Linked DNA regions of Homo sapiens. The protein of the gene in region 1 interacts with the protein of each later gene in a biochemical or structural test. Each region holds a gene or a part of one and is shown on either strand. Other genes may lie near its edges. The genes, in order: ABL2, SORBS2 and ERBB4.

Region 1 (3,753 bases):
ACCTTGCTTGGCTGCTTATGAGCTTTGTGACCTGGGACAAGTTATTTAACTTTTTGTGTCTTGGACTCTTCATTTGTAAAGTGGTGATAATAATAGTACCTAGTATTAAATGAATAGTGGCTGGGCACATAGTATGAGCTAAATGTGTGTAGCTGCTGCCATTACTAATACTACTGTTATTATTAAAAACAGGAGTAATTCGGCCAGGTGCGGTGGCTCACGCCTGTAATCCCAGCACTGTGGGAGGCCGAGGTGGGCAGATCATGAGGTCAGGAGTTCGAGACCAGCCTGAGCAACATGGTGAAACCTCGTCTGTACTAAAAATAGAAAAATTAGCTGGGCATGGTGGCACGCGCCTGTAGTCCTAGCTACTCAGGAGGCTGAGACAGGAGAATCGCTTGAACCCGGGAGGTGGAGGTTGCAGTGAGCCAAGATCGCGCCACTCCAGCCTGGGTGACAGAGCGAGACTCTGTCTCAAAAAAAAAAAAAAAAAAAAAGTAGGGATAATTCAAAGATGACACCAGGATTTAGAACCTGGCTAACTGGGATGATGAAGATTCTATTGACAAGTTTGGAAGTTAGAAGCTGATTGAAAAAATGGGAATAGGTCGAGTTTATTGCCAAAGACTAGTATGAAAAGAAAGGAATTAGCAAATAATATAGGAAACAAAGGTGCAGTGAGTACTGTTTTTTAGACAGATGGGTTTAAAAAGTTTTTTTCTGTACATCATAGTTTCTTTTTTTTTTTTTTTTTTTTTTTTTTTGAGGCGGAGTCTCACTCTGTCGCCCAGGCTGGAGTGCAGTGGCGCGATCTCGGCTCACTGCAAGCTCCGCCTCCCGGGTTCACGCCATTCTCCTGCCTCAGCCTCCCGAGCAGCTGGGACTACAGGCACCTGCCACCACGCCCGGCTAATTTTTTTTTGTATTTTTAGTAGAGACAGGGTTTCACCGTGTTAGCCAAGATGGTCTTGATCTCCTGACCTCATGATCCGCCCTCTTCGGCCTCCCAAAGTGCTGGGATTACAGGCATGAGCCACCGCTTCCGGCCACGTCATAGTTTCTTAACCTCGGCGGCATTGATATTTTGGGCTGGCTAATTCTGTGTTTTGGGGGGCTGTCCTGTGCATTGTAGGATGTTTAGCAGCATCCCTGGACTCTACCCACTAGATGCCAGTAGCACCTTCTTTTTGCCCCTTACTTGTTATAAAAATGCCTCCAGACATTGTTAAATCTCTTGGGGGGCAGAATTGCCCCTAGTTGAGGACACCACTTAGAAATGTGATAGATTCTGAATTGAATGAATGAATGAATGAATTAGATTCGAAAGCTTCTCAGTGGATGTATCATTTGACCTTTACATGGTAAATGTAGGTGCTCGAATCTAGTGTACAAATTACTGTCTTGAGTTTGCCATATTGAGGTATTAGCACATAATTTCATATATGAATGTTAGGTCTGTTAGACTCTTGGGTTTACATGTAGGTTTTAATATAAGCCAAATAATACATTTAGTTAATCAGTAAAAAGGTACATACATTATGGAAATGGTTTATCAGAGTCCAGGACTTTTCTTTCTTTAGCTAAAATGGTCATTTTTTATCGTTAATAATATGTGGGTAAGCTGTGATAATAATTTGCCTTGCCAAAAGTGATTTTTGTGAATGTAATTTAGAAGGAACAAAAATAATAGAGCCATTTTTGGTATGAAAGGAGTGAGTGCTGTGTGACTTTTCTGAGATCTGCTATTTTTTTTGTCAACTCTTTTATTTTATGTTTTATTTTAGAGAAAGGTCTTGCTCTGCCACCCAGGCTGGAGTGCAGTGCTGCGATCGTAGATCGCTGCAGCCTTAAACTCCTGGACTCAAGCAATCCTCCTGCCTCAGCCTCCCGAGGAGCTGAGACTACAGGCACACGCCATCACACCTGGGTAATTTTGTGTTTTTTTTTTTTTTTTTGTAGAGACGGAGGTCTCACTATGTTGCTCAGGCTGGTCTCAAACTCCTAGGCTCAGGTGATACTCTGCCTCGGCCTCCCAAAGTGCTGGGATTATAGGCGTGAGCCACTGCGAGAGGCAAGCTCTGCTATTAAACCTTTCTGGTGAGCTGATGTTTCATGACTAATAATCTAGGGTTGAATACTTACTTGCTGTTGAATATCTCACATACCTTTTAACAGCTGAATGATTTTACTTTAGCTTCCCTCTCTCATTTTCTAAAAATTCTATTAAAAATTAACTTTAGGCTGGGCGTGGTGGCTCACACCTATAATCCCAGCACTTTGGGAGGCCGACGTGGGCAGATCACCTGAGGTCAGGAGTTCGAGATCAGCCTGGCCAACATGGTGAAACCCTGTCTCTACTAAAAAAATACAAAAATTAGCCAGGTGTGGTGGCGGGCACCTATAGTCCCAGCTACTCAGGAGGCTGAGACAGGAGAATCCCCTGAACCCCGGAGGCGGAGTTTGCAGTGAGCCGAGATCGCGCACCTGCACTCCAGCCTGGGCGACAGAGCAAGACTCCGTCTCCAAAAAAACCAACAAACAAAAACCCTTACATTATGAAGTTTGGAATAACAAAAATTTTTCCTTAAATCAAACTCATTATTTTAAGTGATCTGATTTATTTATTTATTTTTTATTTTGGATCTGTAGTTTTTTTTTTTTTTTTTTTTTTTTGTAGTGAGTAGGGTCTCACTCTCTTGCCCAGGCTGGAGTGCATTGGCGAGATCATGGCTCACTGCAGCCTTGACCTCCCAGACTCAAGTGATCCTCTCACCTCTCAGCCTCCTGAATACCTGGGACTATAGGTGCACGCCACCATGCCTTTCTATTTTTTTTTTTTTTTTGTAGAGACAGAGTTTTGCCATGTTGCCCATGGTGGTTTTGAACTCCTGGGCTCAAGTGATCTGCCTGCCTTGCCCTCCCAAAGTCCTGAGATTACAGGTGTGAGCCACCGCACCCGGCCAGTAGTTCATGTTTTAATCTTTGTGGAATGAAGGCTGTTGGCACCCCAGGTTGAAAACGATGCTATGGAAAGCACAGGAAGGCTGTTGTGAGGGAATTTTAATTGTGGTGACTTAATATAAGAACTAAACTTCATTTTTTATTTTTATTTATTTTTCTTTTTTTCTTGAGTGCCAATCCTGCAGACTAAACTTTTAAAAAAAAATCAGCTGTTAGATTTTTATTAATCTCCAAATCTGTGTAAGTTATAGATGTGTAGTTGGGGTCCATATTTTTAGCAAAGTAATAAGTTGTGGTACAGATTCTGTTCTCATAGCCCACTTGGCAGTAAAATTCCAAGTAAAGTGATGAAGTCTGAAGTTTCTCTGTAAGGGTCTTCAGCCTGCTTTATTCGATAGTTTATTTATTTACTTAGGTGGTTTTTTTTTTTTTTTGAGACAGGGTCTTGCTCTGTTGCCTAGGCTGGAGTGCTGTGGCATGATGATAGCTCACTGCAGCCTCAAACTCCTGGCTGAAGCCATTCCTGACTCAGCCTTCTGGGTAGCTGGGACTATAGGTGCGTGCTACCATGCCTGGCTAATTTTTAAATTTTTCTGTAGAGATGGGGTCTTGCTGTACTGGGCCAGGCTGGTCTTAAATTCCTAGGCTCAAGTGATTCTCCCACCTTGGCCTCCCAAAGTGCTGGGATTACAGACATGAGGCCCTGCATCTGGACTTTTTTTTTTTTTTTTTTTTTTGAGAGGGAGCCTTGCTCTGTCTCCCAGCCTGGAGTGCAGTGGCGCGATCTTGGCT
Region 2 (3,753 bases), on another chromosome or scaffold:
GCTAGGCAAGCCATTTTACGTTTCTCCTCCCTCCTCCTCCTCCCTCCTCCTCCTCCTCCTTGTTTTTGAGATGGAGTTTCGCTCTTGTCGCCCAGGCTGGAGTGCAGTGGCATGATCTCGGCTCACTGCAACCTCTGCCTCTTGGGTTCAAGCAATTCTCCTGCCTTAGCCTCCTGAGTGGCTGGGATTACAGGCACCTGCCACCAAGCCCAGCTGATTATTGTACTTTTGGTAGATACGGGGTTTCACCATGTTGACCAGGCTGGCCTCGAACTCCTGGCCTCAGGTAATCCACCCGCCTCGGCCTCCCAAAGTGCTAGAATTACAGGCATGAGCCACCGCACCCGGCCTTTTTTTCTTCTTTTAATGGAAATAAAATCAGAGGCTTGTGGCCGCACCAGGGCCTCAATTCTTTCATGATTTTGCCACCGATGGATGTCTAGAGTGAGCCCTCCTCTCCTCTCACCTTTCCTCTCTTCCATTCTCTGCCCTGCAGCCTGTGTTTCCTTTTCACCTCTTTCTGTGGCCCAGTGTAAAATACTTTTGTCTACAAATGTTTTCCCAGAAGACCTCTCGTCTTTTTTTTTAGGATGGTAAAGATGAAGTTGCCTTTTAAGTGGGAAGAATGGAACGTCTCTCTGCTTCCACCACAAACTAAAGTTAAGGTGAGTCACTGAATGTTCGGGCATCTACGTCAGACCTAGGAAACGGGAGAGCTGTTCACTTAATCTCACTCCCTCTGAAATTAGATTCTCACTGTGGACAACTAACATTTTCCACAGCACAGAGCGTTGATATTTCTCTTCTGGGGACCATTTGTTGTTGTTGTTCTTAGATCTCAATCTTTCCTGGTTTTTGCTATTTAAAGAAATTGTCTTCTCTCAGTTGAGTTGGAAATAAAGCTCGCAGAAAATCACACATAGCTGAAGCAGTGAATACTAAACTATATTAAAAATGCAATAGCCTTGGGATTACATTGTGCATATGAATGTCTGAAAGATCAAAGGCATTACGAATTCAAAGGAAGCTCGGCCATCACAGCAAACCACGGGAGTGAGCAAACTCAAGCAAATTACAAAATAGCCGAAGGTGCCTGAGGAAGAAGCGCACATACCCACAAACCAGCCGTCATCACACTTTTCCATGACATCAATGACATCACTTTCTCTGAGCTCCAGCTCATCTTCATTCCTGGGAGTATAGTTATACAGAGCCTGAAACCTTAAACAGGACAAGGGAATGTGTTTAAAAACATCTTGACACCTTCATGAAATATAGAAGATAGAACAATATTCATTCTTCCTTTAACATTCCTATTCTTAACAACATTCTGTTGGGTGGTACAAGCCTGGTAAGCATGTAAATAGCATTCTATTGGATGGTACAAGCCTGGTAAGCAGGTACATAGCAATATGTAGATCTTCACAGGCATTAGAACACTCTAACAACATTTTGAAACTCACGAGGAATATCCATGAAAATTGTAACATTCATAAATTGGATTAAAATATGTCAACATGTATAAGTCAGACCCGCATTTCAGTTGTCCAGCCATCTAACGTCTATCATTTAGACATTAAATAATAGTACAAAATATAAAATAAGTGATATTTGTATTATTTAACTGTTTAAAAACAAGAAGGAATCACAATTTTAGCTAGCCATAATCAGAAGCAAATAATGGGGGCTTGAGAATTGAATTTTCAAAGGTTCTAAATGGAGATAGACAAAATGTGTCAGACATGTCTTTTTAATCACTCTGTGTGAATTACTATACAAAGGAAAATTATTTTTTTTACTAAGAGGAATTCTTTAGATCAGTTTAATGTTATGGTTTGGATCAGTGTTTTCTGAGGATGTAGAATTGGAAGATTTGATGTAATTAGCCTATGAAGTTGAGTAGATGTATTCTATGTGCAGTTATTACTGATTCCATTTCAAGCAGACTATGGACATAAGTCTCTTTTTAAAATGAGTCCCAGAAAAATTGTATTTGATTTTAAAACTCTCTCTTGAAATAATTTTATATAAAAAAGAATTATTGATAGAATGCTATCACTTTCCTTTCCCGGCCTGAATTCTTTGACAGCATATACTGTGGTGGAAATTGATCAATAATGAATTCAGACACTGAATTTGTGGTAAGAAAACACCATACATTATAATAAATAGTAACATGGGCTGGTGTTTTTGGAAAATGAAGGCGAAATTACTGTAGCTGAGAAGGTCAAGAAGAATTTGATAGGCAGTTAACATGAAAACTTCTTCATAATAGTACTAAAATATTACCAGTACTGTGAGGGGGTTTTTAAAAATTGGGAATTTGTTTCTGCTGCTTTCTGTAACAGTCATGTCATTCTGCTAATGTGAGAAAATAATTACCACTTTCTAGGGTATTTTAGATTTTTTCATGCCAACTTAAAAAAGTTGATAATCTTGACTACCGCTCCGGAACAAGAATGATTTATTTTTAATTACTTTATGAGTCAGAAAATAATATTTTGGTAGAACAAAACTATTCTATCATTTAAACTCAAATCTTATGTCATTAATAAGCAACAGTGACCTACTGGCTTCCCCCCGTTCATCCAGCATTTGGACTGGGGGAGCTGGATAGAGTTGGCTTCAGAGAATGCCTAACAACATCCCCTAGAAAATATTGTTTTCCCTGGCCTGGCACCAAAGCCTGAAATTTCAACATTAGAGGCTTCTTCTCCTGTTAAAACTTCATCCTTCCAGTAGACCTTACAGCCACTTATATCCTTTTGAGCATGGGCTTCTGAGGCCTTTTCTTGAGAGAGGGGTTTGTGATTATGGGGAAGGGCAGAGAAAGGCAGCTAGCATCCCAGAGTAGTGGCCAAAAAGACAGGCAGGTGTGGAATACAGAAACGTCACCTGATTTGGATGTTTGCATGTGGCCAGCTTTGCTAGGGGTAGTCCATTTATTTTGTTGCTTGTGTAAAGAATTTGATTTGGAGGCTGCTCAGGTGAAGGGGTGGTATCTTTTGTGTATCTGTGGGGAAAGTTCACGGTCCCTTTTCCAGTTTCACATTTGAGAGAGATGGTGGTTCCTGGGCTGCTGTTTTGATGGATACACACGGCATTTCTCACTTTGGGAAAACTGATTCTTTTATTGAGCTTCTCAGGCTTGAACCCTGCCCAGGCTCATCTCCACCCACTCATGGAGACCGGTTACCTAAGGCTGCAAACCTCAGCTGCTGGAAAGAATCTCAAGGTCTCAGAGCTAACGCAACAAAATTGGCACAGACTCCTGCTTCATTTTTGTCTGATGAAAGCCAGCATGTTTGTCCAAATTTATTTACCATTCTGGTTTAATTAGACCACAGAAACAAAAACAAAACAAAAGAAAACCCACGGAGTTTTATGGAAACGTAAACACACCTTCAGGAAATCCTCCTGCCTCTCCTGGCTTTCAAAGCCAGTGTTGCACAATGGGAAATGAAGACAAATCCAATGTTAAAAAATGCTGTTGTGAAAGATGTGTTGGTGAGGTGAGTGATGGTGGTGGGGTAAGGATGCCTCAAAAAGAAAGGTGTCTTTTAAACAGGAAATGCTGAGCCAGACTGGAAGCCCTCTCGATAACTTGCAACTTTTTCTAGAACATATTTCACTAAAACTCTGAATTGTAGTGACATAACATTATGTTCCTACTTTGGCTCAAAACTTATTTTTAAATGAAAGCAACTAAGCAACACCCTAAAATCCCACTAATTCAGGCTATAATCAAATATA
Region 3 (3,753 bases), on another chromosome or scaffold:
GCTGTCAGTTTCCTTACCTAAAACATAAGATGACTGGATTACATCAGTGGTTTCTAGTGCCGGACTTCTATGACACCAGTGCAGGAGAGTAGAGGCAACAGTGAAAGGAAAGTGAGGGAATGTCAACGGCAGGGGCCTCAAAGCTGCCTCCTCCCTGCAGCTTAACTACACAGCTCTCTTTTTATTTTACCCTTTCAGCTGTTTTAGAAACTAGGGCTATGCCTATGACTTCACTTGGAACAACAACAACAAAAAAGAGGTCCACTTACAAAAATAATTAAAAACCAATAAACTTTTTTTCTAAAAAGTCTAAACTTTCCATTTCTAATTAATTGAATTATTAAAAACATTCAAGATGTTAATAGCTTAGGCATGACTTTTAGCTACACTAATAAAGGTAAGGCGATTGAGACAGAAGCAAGTAGTCTAATCCCAGATCACATAACAAATGATTGTATGACCAGAATCCAAACCTCCTAACTTTTAGTGCTTTATTCGCTAGCATCACACAATAGCAAGGCTGTTGCTGTACTACCCACAGCTAAGGCATGCACTATTCCTATTAAAGTCTATGTGGCTGCTGCCCCCTGGAGTTGTGCAAAGTGACAGGCCTGCAGAACAATTCAAAATGGAAATAACTCTAAAACAATTATTACATGCTACATAGCCTCTTTAGAATTAGTTAACAAAACATCCACATATTTCAACTCCATATTGTAAAAGGGACAGCTTTCCTCTCTTGAAAAGTTTGTATAAATATAAAGCACTAGTTTAAGTATCAAGTGTGAAAACAAGGAAGTGGCCTTAAATCTTGATTACAGAATTGGAAAATACGGCAATTTATTTAATAAATATTTCAGAATAACCAACAACTCAGAAAAAATAAAAGAGACCATAGAACAATTCTGAAAATAATATTTTGGGGAAATTGCCCTCAAATACAAATGCCTTTGAGTTAATAAGCTCTTTATTTCATTAGACAGGTACTCTTTTGATAGAGACAGTTTGCTAGAAAGTTTACATTATGTTTCTTAATATAGGTATACATGTTTTAGATTACATGTGCAATTTAGATTACATCTATAAAAACAATTTAGTGGAATGTATCTCAATATCAAAGACTTTAAAGTTATTTTCATAAAACTGTACAGTGCAGAAATAGTGCATTATATGCATTTCTCTCCCAGGCAGAGAAGCCAAGTCACAAAGAGATGCAGTGAGTTGCTGAAGGTATTAAGAAACTCGAGAACTGTCTCTGCAAGGTAGAAATCCTGATTTAAACAATGTGACTACGTCCCATGTCCCATTTAACCACAAAATAGGCAATTAAAGTCTCCCTCAAATTATGTTGAAGACATACAGTTTCAGGAAACATTGACCTACAATTTTTTCATAAAAAGGGGTTATTTTTCATTATAAACTGAAAACTCCAGTCAATAGCTGTATTAGAAATCATAAAAAGTAAGGTTTTAACTCTGACTGCCAATATTTATAATACTTCAGAAAATGAGTATTAGATAAAACATGTAATTTGGTTCCATATGGTGAAATGTAACATAATAGAGCATCTCTAAAATGATATAACCTGGAGAAAAGTTGTTAATATGATTAAATTCTACCCTGCACAGGATACTCAGTAGATCACTGTAAAAGATAACAGTGGAATATGCTTGGTGATTAATTTCTGTAGAACAGATGTAGGCTTGAACCTCTAAAAACTAATTTCAGTACAAATATTAGCATCTCAACAAAGCAGTATCTCTCAAAACTGGTAAAATTAAACAGAGCAAGTACCAACAAGTTTGTAGGTATCAGAAAATCCGTTTTGATCATTTATTTCATTTATGTTTTAGGCACTTACAAACTATACATGGATATCCAACAGTAGCAGAACACTATAATATAAAGCCAAAACTTATGGCTATTTTTAAGAACATGTTAACTTTTCCTAATAACCAGCTTGATATAACACAAAAATAATACCGCTTTAAAGCATTGCAATGTTTAAGCCATCCTAATTCAATTTATTGTCTAAAATATGCACTGTGCATAGCCATTAATCTCAAGGTGGCTCTAATCAAGCTTCCAAGAGTACTTAGAAAGAGCACAATTCATTGCCTCACTAGCATTTTTTAAATAGCAGTGGTCCACCTTCCTTCCTTGGTCAAGAGGGGAAAAGAAAGAAAGAAAAAGGGTAAGAGGGACTTCTCTGTGGAAAGGTTTGGCCTTGGAGTCAAGGCTTTTAAGATGTGCCAGTGATCTTGGATCGATGCCTTTTTATTTTCTTTCAGGAATAAATCTGAGCAATGGAATGGCTTGTGATTGTCTGGCCAACCAGCCATATCAGATTTATCAGAAAGAATGAAAACTGGCTCAGAGGACTCCTGCAGTGGCTGAGTGGCAGGTTACTGGGAAAGACACAAACAAAAACAATATACTTAGTGGCGGAAGGGAAAATATATATTAACACATGTAAACTCAATAAATACTAAGATGTAAAGAGAGAATCTATAGTAACAGAAAGGGTGAATGCATAAGACAGATGATAAATAGTACTTCTATTTAAAAACCAAAGGGATGAAAGCTCATGAATACTACATATTTGAATCCACTTTGAGGAGGAAATACGATTTTCCATCAAATAAATGCAAACTCTAAAAATCAGCCAATGCAAACTTACTGTGTTCAGGTTAGAATAAAAAATGCATAAATCTTCCACAAAGTTCATGCTCTGATAAATATTCTAATGTAATTTCTTAATTAAGACACATTTCCAGTGACTAAATGAAAATATATATATAAAGCAGTAAGTGCCTTGATTTTCAACAAAATTTCACTTTCTATGCATACATGATTAAAATAAATAAAAGCAGTTGAGTTTAAGAGCAAAAAAAAGGAATACTGATATAACTGGAGTCATTTCATCACAACAGAACAGTTATAGTATTTCCAAGCGATTTGCAGTTATACTAACAGATATTTATTTAGACATATTGTGAAGAAAAAAATAACACCTTCTTCTAAAAAGCCCCCTTTTATATATATATATATGAGAATTTCAAATTAAAAAGAAAACATTGTACCGATAGATGTGCTTACAGTAAACACTTGTAAGAAAGAGAATTGATGCTTTCTTGAAAATATATTTAACACCTTTTTCACCACTTAACTTTTATTAACATTTTTCTTCTCAAATGAAAAATAACCCCATGATTTTGGAGATATAATGATGTATCTTAAATATGTACGAAAGCTATATGTACTTTTATAGAATGAAAAGCAAGACTGAGTTACCTGCAAAAAAGAAATGGGAACTGAACTTGTTCATCGTTTATCTACTAAGGTATATAAGAGTACCACCTCAATGCTACTATACATTTTCTTCAATACCAAGGCAATATTGATAATTTTCCATTATACAAGGAAGACGAATTTTAGAACCATTCCTTTGGTTAGCAAAGGCTTTATAATTGCCATATAAAGGGACTTTGGCTATATCTAGATATATCTAAATAAAATGCATAATTGAAAATGAGACAAAGTCCTTTAGAATTTCTAAAAAACATCCTCTCTAATGCTGAATTTTTTTCCAAGCAAAAGAAAAAAGAGGTTCTCTTCTGTTACAATTAAGAAATATCTTAAAGATCTATACAACAGCATCCCCCGCCCTATATTTTTATTCTGTTCACATAGAGCAGTAAATAAGGTGCATTCCTTCTGCTTAAGAAATTAGCATTTCAAAAATATGCCACT

Evidence for each region.
Region 2: the proteins of ABL2 (region 1) and SORBS2 form a complex in vitro, tested with the Homo sapiens proteins (one study listed by BioGRID).
Region 3: the proteins of ABL2 (region 1) and ERBB4 form a complex in vitro, tested with the Homo sapiens proteins (2 studies listed by BioGRID and IntAct, with this or other methods).

What each region holds. Positions count from the first base shown.
Region 1 is NC_000001.11:179,223,055-179,226,807, reverse strand, and holds part of ABL2 (tyrosine-protein kinase ABL2), read left to right. Parts: intron 1-3,753. UniProt on the Homo sapiens protein: Non-receptor tyrosine-protein kinase that plays an ABL1-overlapping role in key processes linked to cell growth and survival such as cytoskeleton remodeling in response to extracellular stimuli, cell motility and adhesion and receptor endocytosis.
Region 2 is NC_000004.12:185,588,565-185,592,317, forward strand, and holds part of SORBS2 (sorbin and SH3 domain-containing protein 2), read right to left. Parts: intron 3,513-3,753; exon of another isoform or gene 3,341-3,512; intron 1,222-3,340; coding exon 1,115-1,221; intron 666-1,114; exon of another isoform or gene 590-665; intron 1-589. UniProt on the Homo sapiens protein: Adapter protein that plays a role in the assembling of signaling complexes, being a link between ABL kinases and actin cytoskeleton. Can form complex with ABL1 and CBL, thus promoting ubiquitination and degradation of ABL1.
Region 3 is NC_000002.12:212,532,203-212,535,955, forward strand, and holds part of ERBB4 (receptor tyrosine-protein kinase erbB-4 isoform JM-a/CYT-1 precursor), read right to left. Parts: intron 1-3,753. UniProt on the Homo sapiens protein: Tyrosine-protein kinase that plays an essential role as cell surface receptor for neuregulins and EGF family members and regulates development of the heart, the central nervous system and the mammary gland, gene transcription, cell proliferation, differentiation, migration and apoptosis.